Homo sapiens: one gene and its partner. The protein of the gene in region 1 purifies or fractionates together with the protein of each later gene. This does not show direct contact. Each region holds a gene or a part of one and is shown on either strand. Other genes may lie near its edges.

What was found.
Region 2: the proteins of AIFM3 (region 1) and GRK6 purify together in Homo sapiens (affinity purification with mass spectrometry; one large-scale study listed by BioGRID and IntAct). This does not show direct contact.

The regions. Positions count from the first base shown.
Region 1 is NC_000022.11:20,965,998-20,970,281, reverse strand, and holds the start of AIFM3 (apoptosis-inducing factor 3), read right to left. Parts: upstream 3,028-4,284; 5' UTR 2,979-3,027; intron 2,478-2,978; 5' UTR 2,338-2,477; coding exon 2,307-2,337; intron 1-2,306. UniProt on the Homo sapiens protein: Induces apoptosis through a caspase dependent pathway. Reduces mitochondrial membrane potential.
Region 2 is NC_000005.10:177,439,891-177,443,546, reverse strand, and holds the end of GRK6 (G protein-coupled receptor kinase 6), read right to left. Parts: intron 3,634-3,656; exon of another isoform or gene 3,516-3,633; intron 2,848-3,515; coding exon 2,710-2,847; intron 2,629-2,709; coding exon 2,494-2,628; intron 2,303-2,493; coding exon of another isoform or gene 2,297-2,302; exon of another isoform or gene 2,194-2,296; intron 1,813-2,193; coding exon of another isoform or gene 1,811-1,812; coding exon 1,757-1,810; coding exon of another isoform or gene 1,720-1,756; 3' UTR 656-1,719; downstream 1-655.

The DNA of each region.
Region 1 (4,284 bases):
GAACAGCAAATGCCTACCTCGTTGGTGACAGTGAATGCTGAAGGAAATACTGTATGTAACCCAGAGTAGAAGCTCAATAGATGGAGTTGGGCAGCAGTGTTTTACCAGTTAGCTCTGAGCCTCCTAGCAGCCATGGTGAGGATGGAAAGCCTTTAGGTATCAGTTATGGCCTAATAAAAGGCAGGTGAACAGATGCTAAGAGAGCTGCACTTCCTCCTAGCTCTGAGCTAGGTGAGGGACTGGTCTGATACCTTCTTATCAACTACTCAGACAGGACACACAGGAGCACAGAGGGAACCCAGGAAGCAGGTGCTGATGCACACGGAGCCACAGAATCGAGTGGAGCAAGATAGAAAGTGAAGGATTTGCACAGAGGTCTTCTGCTTGATCTAGTCTCTTTGTGGCCCCTTAAGACCCCAGCTGAACCCTCAGGCCCCAAATGCTGTCACTCCCATATCTGGAAATTCCCTGAGCCTCATGCCTGACCTGCCCAGCATGGGCACCTGGGGCCTGAGCCTCTGGCTACAGCCCCACAGGGGAGGCCTGGCAGCACAGAGCCCAGCTCAGAAAAGGGATAACAAATAATATTCCTTGGGAGGCCGAGATGGGCGGATCACAAGGTCAGGAGATAGAGACCATCCTGGCTAACACGGTGAAACCCCGTCTCTACTAAAAATACAAAAAAATAGCTGGGCGTGGTGGCGGGCGCCTGTAGTTCCAGCTACTTGGGAGGCTGAGGCAGGAGAATGGCATGAACCTGGGAGGCGGAGCTTGCAGTGAGCCGAGATCACGCCACTGCACTCCAGCATGGGAGAAGGAGTGAACTCTGTCTCAAAAAAAAAAAATTCCGCAAGTGCTTCTGGTGTGCCAGGCCCTCATGCTAGGCACAACAGCCCCACTTTACAATGAGGATGCAGAGGCTCAGAGAGGGGAAATCACCTGCCCAAGGCCACACAGCCAGAAAGGGGCAGGGCTGGATTTGCCTAAGTTCTTAGGACTGCCTTTGGTGAGGGTGGCCACCCCCGACACTGGAAGTCCTGGGGCCACGGGTCCCAGGCAGGCCAGCCATTTGGGGTCCTTTAAAAGAACCTGCAGGTGGCATCTTCTGCCAGGGCCTCCTGCCAGCCCAGCGGTGCCACAGACGCCTGGTATGAGGCCAGCTGGCATCATCCCACCCACTGCTAGGGGGAGACAATGGACGTCATCTGCCCAAGGCACATTTTGAGGCAGAGAGGGATCCAGCCCAGGCCTAGGTGTCCACAGCACAGGAGCGGGGGAGGAAGAGTGGCTTCTTGGAGCAGAGGCAAGTGGGTCCCTCTGCCTGGTGGGTCATCACAGCCCTCCTCCCTCGCCCAAGTTCTCCCTTAGACCCAGGAAAGGGAGAAAAGCCTCACAAGTTCCAAGGTAACGGAGCTGATGGGTATCAGGTAAGGGGAGCTGGGGTGAGCTGGCTGGGGTGAGCTGGCTGGGGTGAGCTGGCTGGGGCAGCGTGGCCTGGCAGGTTGAGTGGAGCACTGGCTGCGCTCTTGAGGTCTCTCTAAGCCTCAGTTTCTCCACCTGTGACAAAGCTGCACACTCCTGCCTCCCCAGGTGTTGTGAGGAGAGAAGAGGGAAAGTGGGGGGCCAGAGGGAGAGCTCCGCAGACATGAGTCTTTAGTGGAGAAAAGACCCAGGCCTCCCCTAGCACCCCAGGACACTCCCACTTCTGGCTGGAGTAGCTCAGGCTAGGTTGGATGGTGATTTCCTGTATAAATGGGGAAGTGTGCCCAGAAAGGCCAAGAAGGCAGCCCGAGACCACACAGGGGATCAGAGGAGGCAAAGAGAGCCAGGATCTGCCCACTACACCCTCACAGCAACTCTAAGAGGTCAGGGTGGCCAGGCCCTCTCTTTTGCAGAGAGAAAAACAGAGGCTCAGAGGGGTAACTTGCATGCCCTAGGTCACAGAGTGGCTGAGCGTGTCCCCAGCTCCCCCCTTCCCTGGCCCTGGGGGCATAGCCCCTTCCCCAACCCTGCAACAGGAGGAACCCTGACTTTCCTTTTCCAAGAAGGGTCCTGCTGTTATTCCCACCACCAACACTCAAAGCCCCAAAGAAAAAGGGGCACCCACTGGAGCAGGGGCCAGCTGGGGGAACTGCTCCAGGCCCCCTACCCCCTCCTGGCGGCAGCGTATTAACATTCCGAGCGGGTTCTTGGATAGCCTGACCTACTTCGGAGGCCTACCGAGTGCAGAGGGGGAGGGGGGGGAGACGGGGGAGGAGGAGGCGGGGAGGGAGGAGAAAGGATGGAGACAAGAAGACAGGAGGTACCTGGTTTGGGTTTGGAGAAGCAGCCGCCCATGGCGAGTGGCCTGAGGATGGCCGGCAGGCAGGAGCACAGATGGGGAGCTGTCGGAGGCCTAGGGCGCCCCCCATGGGGCTGGACCCCCTGCAGGCCTTAGAGACGCTGGAGCCGCCATCCTGCTGGAGCTGCTCTAGGACCTGCAGGGGAGACTGGAGCCATCAGGACCGGGGCGTGTGGGCAGGTAGAGACACAGAGGGACGGAGAGAGACAGTGGGAGCTTCGGAAAGAGTCTTACATTTGAGCTGGGAACCATGGCGTGAGCCTGATCCCAGAGCGTGGGGCCCTGGAGGTCACCTCCCCTTTGAAGCCCTCCAAGCTCAGCTCCCTCACTCCTCCAGTGGAGTTCCTCTGCCCGAACCTCGGCCGCCCATCGTCCAGCCCCGCGGCTGCCTTGCCCAGGAAATCCTCCCTGATTTCTACTGCCTCCTCGTGCCCCCCTTCCCCTCTCCAAATCCCACAGCCTGAGAGCTCTGGGACCCTCCATTCTCCCGGGAGACCACTATGCCTAGGCTCAAAGAGGGGGTCACCTTGGGGAAGCCAAAGCCCTTCTCATCCTTGGTCTTCTCCCTCCTACAATGGGGGTGACATCAGGCTCCCCCTAGCCCAGCCCCACCCTGGCTAGCACTCCGGACACCCACCTCCTCGCAGGGCAGCCACTGCTCCGTGTTCCAGGCCCAGCAGTGGACTGAGGCTGCCGGGCCTTGGAAGGCCGGGCAGGGAGGGCAGGGGTCCAGGAGGCGGCCCAGCCTCCACCCTCCTCCCAGCTCAAGCTGTGGCCAGGAGGGGCTGGGGGGCGGTGTGGGGCTGGGCCAGTCCACTGGTCCCCAGGGAAACCCTGCTCTGTGGTGAACAGAAGTGGGCGGCCAGCCCGGGCCTGATGGGGTTAGGGGAAAGGGAAGCCAGGCACACAGCCCTGCCACGCCTGTGCCCAGCAGCCATAAGCTCCCCCTACCCCCGACTCCAGCCCTTCACAAACGCCCACCAGGCCTGTGGGCAGTCATGCCCAACAGCATATGGGGAAAGCAAGGGGTCAAGGTCCCATCAAGGTCAAGCAGCAGGGGCATCCCTGTGGCCTCCCACCCCACCCTCCCACCTTGATCAGTTTTAAGGTGGGCAGGGGCCCAGAAAGCCCCCATATCACCCTAAGGCCCTGCAAGGTGCCCTGGGGGAGGGGACACCTGCACAGCAGAGAGATCACTGTAGCCAGGTGCCTTCCAGGCTACAGGGTGGGCCTTCCGGAAGATGCAGCCTACAGGTGGACTTTGGAAGGCCCAGGGCACAGGCATAAGCTGCCTTGTTTGCAAATGACCTCCCCACAGTCCATCCCACTGCCATCCTCCAGTTTCCTCTGGAAGTTCTTCCTGAAGTCTCACTTGAGGTGGGGCTGAGACCCACCTGGTCTGGTCCAGATACCAGGAAGGGCCGTGGGTGGGTGCCTGAGAGCAAGGGGTGGAAACAAAAGGCCAGGTTGGAGAGGGACCCTTGGTGCCTGGCCCCTGCGCCTGTCGGTCCTCGAGGTGCCCATTACAGGGGAGGAGGCGGTGGCTCCCACAGCCACTGGGGCGTGCCTTGGCTCTTTCCCCCACTTGTCATCAAAGAAGGTCTGTAAAACTCAACTGCCACCTGCCCCACCTGCCCCTTCCCTGGGCACTAGGCTGTCCCTTCCTGGGTCCTGGTTTCAGCCCTGGTTCAGCCCTGCCCGCTTCCTTCCTGGCTGACCTCAGGCCTCACCTGATGGGCCACAGATCCCAGAAAAGGTCAGACCTGGTCTTGCCACTGGGGACCTGCCCAGGCTGTGCTGTCCCTTCCCGAGTACCCAGGGACCTGAATCCCCCAGGGCCTGGGCCAGGAAGGAGACTGGGTGGGGCCCCTGTGCCTTCGGCCTACTGTGTGCTAGATCGGCTTGGAGCCCAGTCACCCCACTCAAAGGCAAAGGTCCTTGCC
Region 2 (3,656 bases), on another chromosome or scaffold:
AGCCCCAGAGCCCAGGCAGGAAGCTCCCCTTGAGTGCCTCCCAGTCCCCCTTCCTCCCAGGTGAATGTCCACTTCGAGGCCGGCTCAACCACCGTCTTCAGAGAACTCTCCCACACTGGCCACAGCCTATCTGCCAGCGTCACCCACTGTCTAGGTCTTTGCCCATAATGTGTCAAGGGCAAAACAGAGGGGTGGATATGATGCACGTGCCTCAGCCCGGGGCCCGTACATGGCTGGCGTCCAGGTAACGCAGGCCTGGGGCAGACATTCCTTACACAGCTCCCACCCTACTCTTACGTCCACATTTAGGCAGCCAGGCCACCTTAGCCTTGGAGGGGAGGACACCAACGGGGCCCGCCTTACCAGCAGTCAGAAACAGACCCACATCCCAGTGGGTACCCAAGGCTTCTTTCCTTAGGCCCCATCCCATTTAGGAAGTTGGGAAACCCACTGGGTGAGCCCAAAGGCTACCAAAGCCTGGCTGTCTGGAGAGGCTAGTTCAGAGTCAGCCCTGGGGGCTCCTGGGCCTCGGAAGGGCACACCCTGCTTCCCTCCAGGCCCACCTCCAATCCCTTCCCGCTTCCAGCTGGGCCAGGGGAGCAGGAAGACCCCTGGAGCACCGGAAGCAAGAAAGAGGCAGGCAGGGGCGGCTAGCCAGGTTTGTGCTCGGACTATTCACACAGAGACATGTGGCAGCTTACGTTGGACAAAACGAGTAATAAAAATTGGCTTTAAATATGGAAAAAACAGGGCCCTGTAATCCCATGCTACCCTAACACTGGGACCAGGATGGCCATCACAGTCTGGGAAGGGCCAGGGCTGGGACCTGGGGCACAGGCACAGCCTCGCCCTATCCCCTTCACCCACACAGGTACACACGCGCGCGCACGCACCCCACAGGCGCACACAGGAAGGGGCGGATTATTGCTGGGCACATGTGTCTATTGTTATGAGGGGAGTCCGGAATGTTTGAGGGTTGACCAGGGATGCCCCACCCCCTCCTAGGGGCTGGGCTTGGGCGTTTCTGAAAGAGGTGTCTGCAGGACAGAGCCCAGTATCAGGGACCAGGCTGTGGGAGCTGGAAGGCAGAGGCAGACCTATCTGGGCCGGCCGGGGCAGTGGGCTGATGGGTATCACAGGCAGCCCAATCTCTGGCCACTTTGGCACAGGCCTAGGGCATACAGAGGCCCCAGACCCAGCGCTGACAAGCACTGAGAAGGGACAGCTTTGGGCCCCAGAGGGTAGCAGCCTGAGCCCAGGGCAGCAGGGGGAGGCACGAGTCTTACTCAGAGGCCGGGGTGGCCAGCACAGTGCTGAAGGCTCAGGGGTGTGACCACCCTCAGCCATCCAAGCTGGGCCAGAGGAGCCTTGAGTTTGGCAGTGGCTCCTCTGCCAGCTCCCGCTCTCCCAGCCAGGGCTGGCTGCCCCCAGGAGCCAAGGCGGGGGCGCCAGGTCTGCGGCGGGAATTAAGAATGCTCTGGTCGCTATATACATTCGTACAAATACATAAATACAGAAAGCCCCGAGCTCCACGGAGAAGAGCTGAAGGGACGCACCTTTGTCCCAGGGATGGCCCAGGCCCTGCCAAACTCAGCCAGGCCAGGGGCTGAGGGACGGAGGACACTGGGGACAGCTCCGTCTGTGTTCCCCAGGCCACGACTTGAGTGGACAATGGGGAAGATCACTGTGCAAAACTGTAAACGGCGCTCGGAGTAGCTGCTACCGCCAACTGCTGGTGGGGGCCTCGGGCTGGGGGCTAGAGGCGGGTGGGGAGCTCTTCCTCGCTGTCGCTGCAGTTTCCACAGCAATCCTGGAGGGACGGGGAAGACACGGAGGGAGGGAGAGAGGCAGAGCAGGTGCCATTAACCACGAGGGACGTCACATGGGGCCGACCCTGCCAGGGCAGGCCAGGAGCTGCCTGAGGGGTGCACTCTGGGGAGGGGCCTCTCCACAAGGAGCCTGGAGCAGCAGCTCAGGCCACACGTGGGTGGGCGTCATTGCAGAGGCTGCCGGCAACAGACTGAAGTAAGGGGGCTGGGTAGATCCCACGGTCTGCCAGGGCAAGGCCTCTGCCCAGCCCTCTCCCCTGGGGCTGGCAGAGACAGGGCACGGGGAGACAAGCGAAGCAAAGCTGGCAGCTCGAAGGGGCCAGGGTGCAGGGGATCAAAGCAGTGGGCAGGGGGAGTGGGGCGGGCACCAGACTTCTTTCTCCCACATCTTGCCTTTGCCATGGAAGGGCTGCCCGTGGCTCCCCGAGGCCAGGCAGCAAGGCCAACCCACGGGGAGCCCACACTGCTCACCTCTGGAAAGAGAAAAGAGGCCATGAGCCCAGCCAGGGGTGGGGGACAGGCGGGAATGAGGCCAGAGACCCTGGGCACCACAACAGGACTGGAGGACGCCCACTCCCAGCGCATGCGGGCACCGGCTCTGCCTCCCACCCACCGTCCCCTGGAGCCAGGTTAGGGGCCCAGGTAGGCCGCTGCTGGGGCTTACTTGGCGACTGAAGAGTCTCTGCAGCAGTCCCTTTTTAGGAGGTGCAGGTGGCTGGCCCTTCCAGTCCAGGTCTGGGGGAACTGAGCCATCCAGCCCAAAGACATTCAGCTCTTGGAAGCACTCGGTCTCCACCATCTGCTGAGGAGCAGGCGGCTGTGACAGCTGTCCCCAGGGCAGCCTCCTGGAGCCCACCCCACCAGCAGGGCAGGCCCCCACCTCGTTCTGCCAGGGGATGGGCACACTGCCTGTGGCAAACTTCTGGTAGAAGTCCTGGTCGGTAGGCTCCAGCTCCACGCCCTTGACCGTAGAGAACTGTTCAATGTCCAGAACATCCTTGCAGTAAATGGCCTGGGGCTGGTGGGACAGAGGCAACGGTCAGATAGGAAACACACACACGCACACGCGAAGGCAGCTCAGCCCTGATTCTGCCTCGGGTCTTGGCCTAGTGCTGCCTGACACCAGCAGCTCTCTGATTTGGAGAAACCAGGTGCCCCACGCACTTCCTAAGTGGGGCAGGCCCTTCTCTCCGAAGCCTGGTTTTCCCCTCTGTGAACTGCGTACGTTATTCCTCACTGCTCAATGACTGTGAGGCTGTGTAAAGGCCAATGCCAGGCACCTCCTTCGCCTGCCCACAGCTTCCTGGGTATGCAGTTGGGGCGGGGAGTACAGGCTGAATCTCAGCCGGCCCCTCCGCTGGGCACCACCACGCAGAGCCTGGAGCTGGTGACTCCCTGGCTCCCCGCCCTGCGATGACCTGGGACTTGCCGTCTTCTCTCCCAGCCAATCAGAGGACTGGCACGGTCTCCCACTGCTCCACCTCCCCAGACCCACACTGGGAGCCCACCTCAGCTCCAGGCGGCCACCTTCTTTTTTTATCTTAACATTGTTTTCTAAATCCTTCAATTAAGATGTCAATTAAAATCATTGTCATGTAAAATGGTACAGCTGCTTTGGAAAACAGTCTGGCAGTTCCCCAAAAGCTTAAACATCATTACCATATGACCTAGTAATTCTACTCCTAGGTATAGACCAAGAGAAATGGCGGCATCTGCACACACAAAAACTTGTACAGGAATGTTCACAGCAGCAATAACAGCCAAAAAGTGGGAACAATCTTAATGTCTACCAACTGACGAACAGGTAAGGAAAATGTGGTCTATCCA